3 linked regions of the Homo sapiens genome follow. The protein of the gene in region 2 interacts with the protein of the main gene of each other region in a biochemical or structural test. Each region holds a gene or a part of one and is shown on either strand. Other genes may lie near its edges.

Region 1 (2,338 bases), on a different chromosome or scaffold from region 2:
TGGCTGTTAGGGATGGGGAGGCTGAAGTTGGTTGTGTGGGTTGCTGGGCTTCAAAGTTCAGGGTAGAATAAGTAACTTCATTCATCTGAAAAGCACAAATAATGATCAGTTAAGTCAGTGACACAGGGCAGGGCCTCACCTTGCCTGGTGTGATTCAGCACCACAAGCTGTTACCATTTTGAAATTTTAGCTCTGGAGAAGGGCTTTTGTTGTTACCCATTCTCTGCTTGCTGACCTCCTGATGAATGATCATTAGAAGAGAGAAATTATGGTATATATGCAATGGGATAGGATAATGCAGCAATGAGAACCAGCAAACCACAAATACATACAATATGGATGAGTCTCACAAAGCAATGTTGAAGAAGCCACATATAAGGATATGTTTTATTTCTCCTTTAGATAGGAACAAAACCAAGCAATACTAATCTGGAGCATTAGAAGTCAGGATAGTGGTTACTCCTCTTTGGAGGGAAGTGACTGGTAGAGTTTTTTTTTTTTGCGACGGAGTCTCGCTCTGTCGCCCAGGCTGGAGTGCAATGGCACGATCTCGGCTCACTGCAAGCTCTGCCTCCCGGGTTCAAGCGATGCTCCTGTCTCAGCCTCCCAAGTAGCTGGGATTACAGGCATCCACTACCACGCCCGGCTAATTTTTTGTATTTTTAGTAGAACAAGGTTTCACTATGTTGGCCAGGCTGGTTTAGAACTCCTGACTTCTAGTGATCCACCTGCCTTGGCCTCCCAGAGTGCTGGGATTACAGGTGTGAGCCACTGCACCTGGCTGGAAGGGTCTCTTTTTAAGGGGAGGTCATGTAGTATTTCATGATTTGGGTGCTGCTTACCTGGGTGTGTTCAACTTGTGAAAGTTCATACATTGTGAAAGTATAATTATGATTTAGCACTTTTCAGTATGTATGTTTGCTCTATTGAAAAGGTAAAATGAAAACTTCTTTTTTTTTTGAGACAGAGTTTCCCTCTGTCGCCCAGGCTGGAGCGCAATGGCGCAATCTTGGCTCACTGCAAACTCCACCTCCTGGGTTCACGCCATTCTCCTGCCTCAGCCTCCCAAGTAGCTGGGACTACAGGCGCCCGCCACCACAGCTGGCTAATTTTTTTGTATTTTTAGTAGAGCTGGGGTTTCACCATGTTAGCCAGAATGGTCTCGATCTCCTGACCTTGTGTTTCACCTGCCTTGGCCTCCCAAAGTGCTGGGATTACAGGCATGAGCCACTGTGCCTGGCCATAAAATGAAAAATTCTATAAAATTATTATTAAAAAACAGGATCTCAGATCTATTAAAATTGAAATTATCCTTTTGACAATAAGAGCAGGATCAGACTGAAGGTAGGGGAGTGAGAATGATTCAGTGCCTTCCTTTTTTAGGCCATTGTGCTGGGTGCTCTTTGTAGGTTATCTCGTTTAATCCCTTCAACTTCTCTTTGAAGTAGGCAGAATGCCCATTTTACAGATGACAAAGCTGATGATCAAAGAGGTTAAGTTACTTGACAAGGGTCACAGAGCTACTAAGAGTCACATCCAGTATTCAGACACAGGATGGGAATAATTCCAAAATGCATGTTCTTGCTGCAAAGTAGACTCATGGGAGTGATTACAAATACGTCTTTGTTGTTGCACTGAGGAACATTAACCCAAACTTGATGTTACATTGTGTCTTCATGAATAATCAATTCTACACAGAATCATTTCCATGAGAAAATAAGCCCATGAAAACCGGCTATGCTTACCTTGTTAGGTGGGTCATTGGAGTGGTCCTGAGCTGGAGAAGCAAAAGAAGAGTTAGCGATCCATGGAAATGCAAAGCTGACTTCAGGTGATTCTAGCTGAAGGAGGTGGCAGTTGGAGGGTGGGGAGTTTAAGGATCAGTTAAGGAATTTACTTCCCTCAGAGTGTATGGTCCAGACCCAGCATGTTAGTACCAGAGAGGGGGCAGGGGCAGAACCACAGGAGGCCACAATCCACTTGTGAAGAGTTCTACCAGTTCACAAGGCCTTGATTTTTGCCCAGATGTGTTTCTCAGCAACATGCTCCAGTGGCAAGGAGGGGCATTGAGACTTGTAGCACCCACAGCACCCACAAGATAAGGAAAGTCTCACCAAGGGAGAGTGCCCACATCCGTAATAGAGGCAGGAGGCGGAAGGAGTAAGGCTGAGGAAATGGCTCCTGGAAACATGGGATCTTCCTCAGGCCTGCCTGGCCTAGGCAGAGTGAGCCTCTCTCCTCAGATGTGTCTCAGGGGACTCCTGTGGCTAGGAAGGGTGGGAAGACCTATGCCACCTTAGGGTTGGGAAATAGAGATCCTTTCTGTGAAAATTCAGAA
Region 2 (3,944 bases):
TAAAAATTATCCCAAATCCTGCCATCCAGAGTTAGTCACTGTTAACATTGTGGAAGAATTTTTATTCTTTGCACATTAACATTTCAAAAATTTTAAACAAAATTTTGACCAATTAAATATATATATATAGTTTTCCGTTTTATTTTTTTTCTTTTCTTTTCTTTTTTTTTTTTTTTTTTTAAGACAGAGTTTCACTCGTTTCCCAGGCTGGAGTGCACTGGCGTGATCTTGGCTCACTGCAACCTCCACTTCCCGGGTTCAAGCGATTCTCCTGCCTCAGCCTCCCGAGTAGCTGGGATTACAGGCATGCGCCACCATGCCCAGCTAATTTTGTATTTTTAGTAGAGATGGCGTTTCTCCATGTTGGTCAGGCTGGTCTTGAACTCCCGGCCTCAGGTGATCCGCCTGCCTCGGCCTCCCAAAGTGGTGGGATTACAGGCGTGAGCCACTGTGCCTGGCCTCCTTTTTATTTTTTTCACTGAACAAACCATGAAACTTTCCCAGATGTAAATATCTATTTCCCATTTTTCTTTTTTTAAAATAAGGCATTATTTTAACCATTTGAGTGTTAGATATTATTTTTAGATAATATTTTAATTTAGGCATAACTGCCGTGCAAAATCTGAAGATTAATATCTACCTTGTGAGTCATTCCTCTGTGAGACAGTGCATGTTAAATATGTTGAATTGGCAGGTGAAAAAGGAAGAAAAAATGAGTAGTGATTGGTTATCCACAGCTATGAATGAGAAATTGAAGGTAGTAGACTATGGATGACAAACCTATTCTTGGTTTCCTTCTGTTTCTGAAATTCTAATTACTACCACAACTACATGAGAGACACTACTAACAAGCAAAGTTTTACAACTTTTTAAAGACATAGACTTTATGTTATTATAATTAAAAATCATGCATTTTTGTCATATTAATAAAATTGCATATACGATATAAAGGCATGGACAAAGGTGAAGTAGCTTCAAGAGACAGAGTTTCTGACATCATTGTAATTTTAAGCATCGTGGATATTCCCGGGAAAGTTTTTGGATGCCATTGGGGATTTCCTCTTTACTGGATGTGGACAATATCCTCCTATTATTCACAGGAAGCAATCCCTCCTATAAAAGGGCCTCAGCCGAAGTAGTGTTCAGCTGTTCTTGGCTGACTTCACATCAAAACTCCTATACTGACCTGAGACAGAGGCAGCAGTGATACCCACCTGAGAGATCCTGTGTTTGAACAACTGCTTCCCAAAACGGTAAGTGCAGAACGCTTTATAAGGGCAGCCTCGGGCCATGAAACACAGATATGCAAAAGGCCTTCTAATAAAAACCACATCTGTACAAGCTCTTATTGTATTGTAGCTAAAACCTGTCTTTTCTCTTTGACCTAAATAATGAAAGTCTTAAAATTTGTTTATTTATTTGATTAAACTCTGAAATAAAGATTATTGCACTAGTGTCCTTTGCCCAAAATCTTAGGATGCTGCCTTAAACATCATGGTAGAATAATGTAACTAGCTACCCACGATTTCCTTCTTTAATTCATTTTGTGTTTTATCTCCCCAGGAAAGTATTTCAAGCCTAAACCTTTGGGTGAAAAGAACTCTTGAAGTCATGATTGCTTCACAGTTTCTCTCAGCTCTCACTTTGGGTAAGTCAGTGCCATTAGACCAAGATTTCTCATTCTCGCACTATAGATATTTCAGACTGAAATATCCTTGCTTGTCTGGGGCTGTCCTGCACAGGATATCTGGCAGCATCCTTGACCTCTACCTGCAATGTGTTCTTCCCTGGGCTTGGGGTCATTTACTTTACCTCTTGGTGTCTCCCTTTCCTTAAGTGTAAAGTGTGGATCATAATGACCTATTTCCCAGATGCATTGTGAGGATTCAATAGCATGGTTCATGGAAAGTACCTCATACAGTGCTTCTTGGTGCATACTAAGTGCTCAATAAAGCTTAGTTATTCTGATTATTATTCTACTACAAAATGGGTATACTATAATGTTGTGAGTGAGTGTGGATAAGGTACCTAGTGGGTGGCAGTCACAAAAGAGATAAACAATAAGTCGCTGTTTCTTCATACGTACTTCTTACTTTTGAAAAGATGAGAAAAGTCTGGGCCATGTCACAAACATTGCCAAAAATAAGACAATAAAAAGCACAGTTGTCAGAGTTAAACCACAACAGTACCAAACTCTACCATTTCTTTTCTTTTTCTCCCACTAGTGCTTCTCATTAAAGAGAGTGGAGCCTGGTCTTACAACACCTCCACGGAAGCTATGACTTATGATGAGGCCAGTGCTTATTGTCAGCAAAGGTACACACACCTGGTTGCAATTCAAAACAAAGAAGAGATTGAGTACCTAAACTCCATATTGAGCTATTCACCAAGTTATTACTGGATTGGAATCAGAAAAGTCAACAATGTGTGGGTCTGGGTAGGAACCCAGAAACCTCTGACAGAAGAAGCCAAGAACTGGGCTCCAGGTGAACCCAACAATAGGCAAAAAGATGAGGACTGCGTGGAGATCTACATCAAGAGAGAAAAAGATGTGGGCATGTGGAATGATGAGAGGTGCAGCAAGAAGAAGCTTGCCCTATGCTACACAGGTAGGGAGTTTGCGGCAGCAGTGGGAGGTAGTTTCAGTGTGTGGGCATCTTGGCAAATTTACAGCATGCAAAAACTGCTCTCTATTGTGGTCATTTTATGTTCCAAAAGATTCTGTTTAACTGCTAAAGTTTCTCTCTTTTGCTGTTTTGTGTGAATGTGGGCAAGAATATGTGGATATGTATATATATACACACACACACATATATACACACACACATATATGTGTGTGTGTATATATATATAGCCTACAGCATTTATATACATTTTATATATATACATACACACATATACACACATATATGTGTGTATGTATATATATAAAATATATATAAATACTGTAGGCAAATATGTAGTTCTTTACATATAAAAATGCACACACACAATACATATTTTAATTACTTGTTTATTTGTGGTAGGGGAACTGTCTTCAGAGTTTGTGAAGAAGTAAATTTTCTACGGTAGGTGCCAGCCACAGCTATACATTAGCATCAAGGTTTAGGATAGGTGGGCCTGAAACTCAGATTTGGAACTTTGTAAAACACTTCAGTTAAAGTCTATGGCACTCTGTAGGACTGCTGATGTCTCTGTTGCACACTGTTGATTCTAAAATCAAAGGCACTCAGTATAAGCACAGTAATAGTCCTCCTCATCATGCTTTGTATTTTCCGTAGCTGCCTGTACCAATACATCCTGCAGTGGCCACGGTGAATGTGTAGAGACCATCAATAATTACACTTGCAAGTGTGACCCTGGCTTCAGTGGACTCAAGTGTGAGCAAAGTAAGTCTGGTTCTTGCCTCTTTCTTCACTTGAGATGGTAGCACCATCTCACGTCCTAGCTGGCATTAGAGTCAGGTCTGCATGCCTTCCCTTCCCTGGTGCAGATGGTGTCATATGGTGATCGTGAGCTGAGACTATGAAGTCAGACCCTGCTGGGTTTGAGTCCTAGATTCACCAGTTATTTATTTTGGCACCTTGACAAGATAGTTTAACTCTCTATGTCAGTTTTCTCATTGTAAAATGAGGATAATAATAGTGTGAACTTCATAGGCTCATGGTTACATGGTGCCTGGCACACAGGACACATTCAATAAACTGTAATTCTGTGTCCCTGCGAGGAACATGTACTCACCTCATCTAGGTGGTAACAAGACGTTGCAGTAGAAATGAGTGAGTTACAGAGTCCAGGGTATCTTGGTTCATGCTCTGGCCTCTGGCTCTGTAATGACTAGCCGTGTAGCATGGAGCAAGTCACTTGAATGAAATGAGGTCTCAGTTCCTAAATTTGTACATTAAGAGAGTTAGATGAGCTTCTCTCCAAGATTCCTTAGCACA
Region 3 (3,500 bases), on a different chromosome or scaffold from region 2:
GATCAGCAAGACAGCTGTGGTTCCTGCCTTCTGGAAGTTTAGGAGTCAATGTGAATACATTTTTAGAAAATAAATGAACAGCAGAAATGATTTAAACACGGGAGGTGACTAATCGTGCCTGGGGCAATCTGGAAAGGCTTCTGGGAGGACTCAGCATTTCCCTGGCCCTCTTCAACCCACAACAACCCCATAAAAAGCGGGTGCTACCATTGTCCTTGTATTCCAGCTAAGGAACCCACAGCTCAGAGAGGTGAGGTGAGTTGCCCCAGGTCACACAGCTTCTAAGGGACAGAGCTGGGGATTGACCTGGTTTGATGTGACTCCCAGGGCACAGCAGGGCAGGGCAGGGCCTGTCCTGTCTACCCAGACTTAGATCTGCTGCCTGTGCCTCAGTTATCTGGGGTCTTTCCTTCTCTTGGTGACTACTTGACCCAAACCCTGAGATGCTCAGTCTTTTGAATTTTAGCATTCCAAGATCCTGCCCGCTCTGACCACCAGTTTCAGGATTCTCAGTGCAAGGTTCCTAGCGGCGTGGAGCCCCACGAGGATCTTTCCTGAGCAGCTCAGGGCGGCCACACGGCGGGTTCTCTGGAGCTGGAGTCTGGGCCCCCTGCAGCCTGCTCCTCCACACAGCCTAGATGGGGCCCATATGGGGTCTAGATGGGGCCTGGGCCAGAAGCAGCCTGGTTTTAGGGCGAAAGAGGCAAACGAGCAGTCTCTGACCTACTCTGTTAGGCAAGTGTTGAGACAAATAGGACGTGGTCACTGGAGACGCCTCTGTCGGAGCCCTGCCCTGGCCCCACTTCTGTGGGACTGTTTTTTGGCCTTCCAGGAAGAGGAGAGGTGGAAGGTGGGGCCTGGGAGTGATCCCGCCGCTCCGGGCCTTGCTTGCTAATCAGTGTGATGGCACCGTTAGAGCCAGTGAACACAGGGGTGAGGAGGAATGAGGTCACCAGATAGTGAGAGGATGAAATCATCCCTCCGTGGGAGGGGCTTCCACATATGTCATTTTTATTGTTGTATAATACATTTACTGTAGCAAATATTAAGGAGGTATTATGCTACCTGCCATACACGGTGAGAAAACTCAGCTCCTCCCCCTTCTACCTGTGTGGCCTCAGCTGAGACAAGATCTCTCAGAGCCTCGGGTTTTCTTTTCTTTCATTAAAAAAAATATGTTTTTTTCTTAGAGACAGGGTCTTACTCTGTCACCCAGGCTGGAGTGCAGTGGTGCGATCATAGCTCACTGCAGCCTTGACCTGGGCTCAAGCCATCCTCTGGCCTCAGCCTCCCGAGTAGCTGGGACTACAGGCATCACCAGCATACCTGGCTAATTTTTAATTTTTTTGTAGATATGGGTCTCAGTATGTTGCCCAGGCTGGTCTTGAACCCCTGCCTTCAAGTCATCCTCCTGCCTTGGCCTCCCAAAGTGCTAGGAGTACAAGCTCGAGGCACCGTGCCTGGCTGAGCCTCAGATTTTCTTTCTGTTAGATGGGCTGATGCCTGCTCAGCTGTGGCCTGGCTCCAGGCTGCTGTGTCTTAAAGCCAGTGGGATGGCAGGGACCAGGCTGGGGTGACCAACAACCCCCCACCCCCAGTTTGCCTGGGAGTGAGGGGTTTCTGGGGTTGAGGGACTTTCAGCACTGACACCAGGAACATGTAGGATAAGGTGGTTGCTTTAGACGGGCCCAGGAAAGGAGGTCTGGGCTTTCCGAATGTACCAGGTCTTATCATAACAGGTACGGAGGTCTCTGCTTTCTCAAAGCCCAAACACCCACAGGGGAGGTAGAGAGGCCGCCATCTCCATACCCTCTGAGTCTGAGACCTCCATTTCCTCTGCTCATCTGCCTGCAGCGCCGAAGAGAGTCCTCCAGATAAAGTACCCCCGGCTGGAAGCCAGCGTCTGGGAACTTCCATACACTCATTCAATTCTCATGATGATTTTTTTTAAGCAATATTGCCGGTTTTACAATGAGGAAACTGAGGCTTAGAGAGGGTGAAGCAACCTGCCCGAGTTTACACAGCCGCTAAGTGGGGGCAAATGTGGGATTCAGGCCCCAGCCTCTCCTCCACCCCAGCTGTCTCTGGGTGCAGGAGGCTGTGGGGATGGCTGTAGGGGAAGGGTGGGCAACAGTGACAGCCTACCTGAAGAACTGGGCCCCAGCACCCTCCGTGTTTCTGTGTTATTCTCCCAGCCTCCGGCCTGCTGCAAGTCCGGCCCTGACTCACCAAGATGCCTCCCCCAACCCGGGAACCAGGGAGACCAGGCCTTGCAACTTTGCCCCCACCTTCTCTGCTTCCAGGAAGTGGCTGAGGGCTTTGCCTTCCAGGAACAGAGAACTGCCCAAGTGGGGGTTGGTAGCTGTGAGTGTGCTCATAAGTATGAAATATGTCTCTAGGCTAATGGCTTCTTCCTAAAGTCCCTGCCTCCAGGAAAGTGGGGCCAAGGTTGGGCCGTAGATTCTTCCCCCAGATAAGAACTCTACCCCAAAGAAATTCTGCTGCCCTGAAGGCAAATTGGGAGGCAAAAGTGTGTGTGTGTGTGTGTGTGTGTGTGTGTGTGTGTGTGTGTGTGTTACATTTATTAAGCACCTACTGTAAGCTTGGAACTTTTGTTTTCTTGTTTTGTTTTGAGACAGGGTCTCACTCTGTCGCCCAGGCTGGAGTGCAGTGGTACAATCTCGGCTCACTGCAGTCTCAACCTTCCAGGCTTAAGCGATCCTCCCACATTAGCCTCCCCAGTAGCTGAGACGATAGGTGTGCATCATCATGCCTGGCTAATTTTTCTATTTAAAATTTTTTTATTTTATTTTTGAGGCAGGGTCTTGCTTTGTCACCCAGGCTGGGGTGCAGTGGCATGATCACAGCTCACTGCAGCCTCAATCTCTCCAGGCTCAAGCAATTCTCCCATCTCCGCCTCCTGAGTAGCTGGGACTACAGGGGCACACCACCACTCCTGGCTAATTTTTTGTATTTTGTAGAGACGAGAGACAGGGCTTCACCATGTTGCCCAGGCTGGTCTGGAACTCCTGAGCTCAAGCAATCCACCTGCCTTGGCCTCCCAAAGTCCTCGGATTACAGGAGTGAGCCACCGTGACTGGCCTAATTTTTCTATTTGTGTCGAGATGGGGATCTCACTATGTTGCCCGGGCTGGTCTTGAACTCATGGGCTCAAGTGATCTGCCTGCCTTGGCTTCCCAAAGTCCTGGGATTACAGGCATGAGCCACCATGCCCACCAGCCTGGAACTTTTGAATCTATCCCCTTGTTGCACTGTCTCAACAGCCCTGTGAGATGGGCACTGTTTCTTATCCCAATTTTACAGATGGGAAAACTGAAGCTCAGGGAGGCAAGCATCTGTGTCAAGGTCATACAGCTTGTAAGGGACAGAGCTAGGACTTGAACATCCTTTTTGTCTGACCCCACATCTATGCTTTCAACCCTATGCCCTGCATGGCACCCGGTAAATATGTGGCAGGCCTTTCTGGGGGACATAACTTT

Evidence for each region.
Region 1: the proteins of SELE (region 2) and CEACAM1 form a complex in vitro, tested with the Homo sapiens proteins (one large-scale study listed by IntAct).
Region 3: the proteins of SELE (region 2) and SELPLG form a complex in vitro, tested with the Homo sapiens proteins (one large-scale study listed by IntAct).

Annotation. Positions count from the first base shown.
Region 1 is NC_000019.10:42,509,144-42,511,481, forward strand, and holds part of CEACAM1 (cell adhesion molecule CEACAM1 isoform 1 precursor), read right to left. Parts: intron 1,778-2,338; coding exon 1,746-1,777; intron 86-1,745; coding exon 1-85.
Region 2 is NC_000001.11:169,731,280-169,735,223, reverse strand, and holds the start of SELE (E-selectin precursor), read left to right. Parts: upstream 1-1,144; 5' UTR 1,145-1,253; intron 1,254-1,563; 5' UTR 1,564-1,611; coding exon 1,612-1,648; intron 1,649-2,225; coding exon 2,226-2,609; intron 2,610-3,281; coding exon 3,282-3,389; intron 3,390-3,944. UniProt on the Homo sapiens protein: Cell-surface glycoprotein having a role in immunoadhesion. Mediates in the adhesion of blood neutrophils in cytokine-activated endothelium through interaction with SELPLG/PSGL1. May have a role in capillary morphogenesis.
Region 3 is NC_000012.12:108,627,395-108,630,894, reverse strand, and holds part of SELPLG (P-selectin glycoprotein ligand 1 isoform 2 precursor), read left to right. Parts: intron 1-2,145; exon of another isoform or gene 2,146-2,249; intron 2,250-3,500. UniProt on the Homo sapiens protein: A SLe(x)-type proteoglycan, which through high affinity, calcium-dependent interactions with E-, P- and L-selectins, mediates rapid rolling of leukocytes over vascular surfaces during the initial steps in inflammation.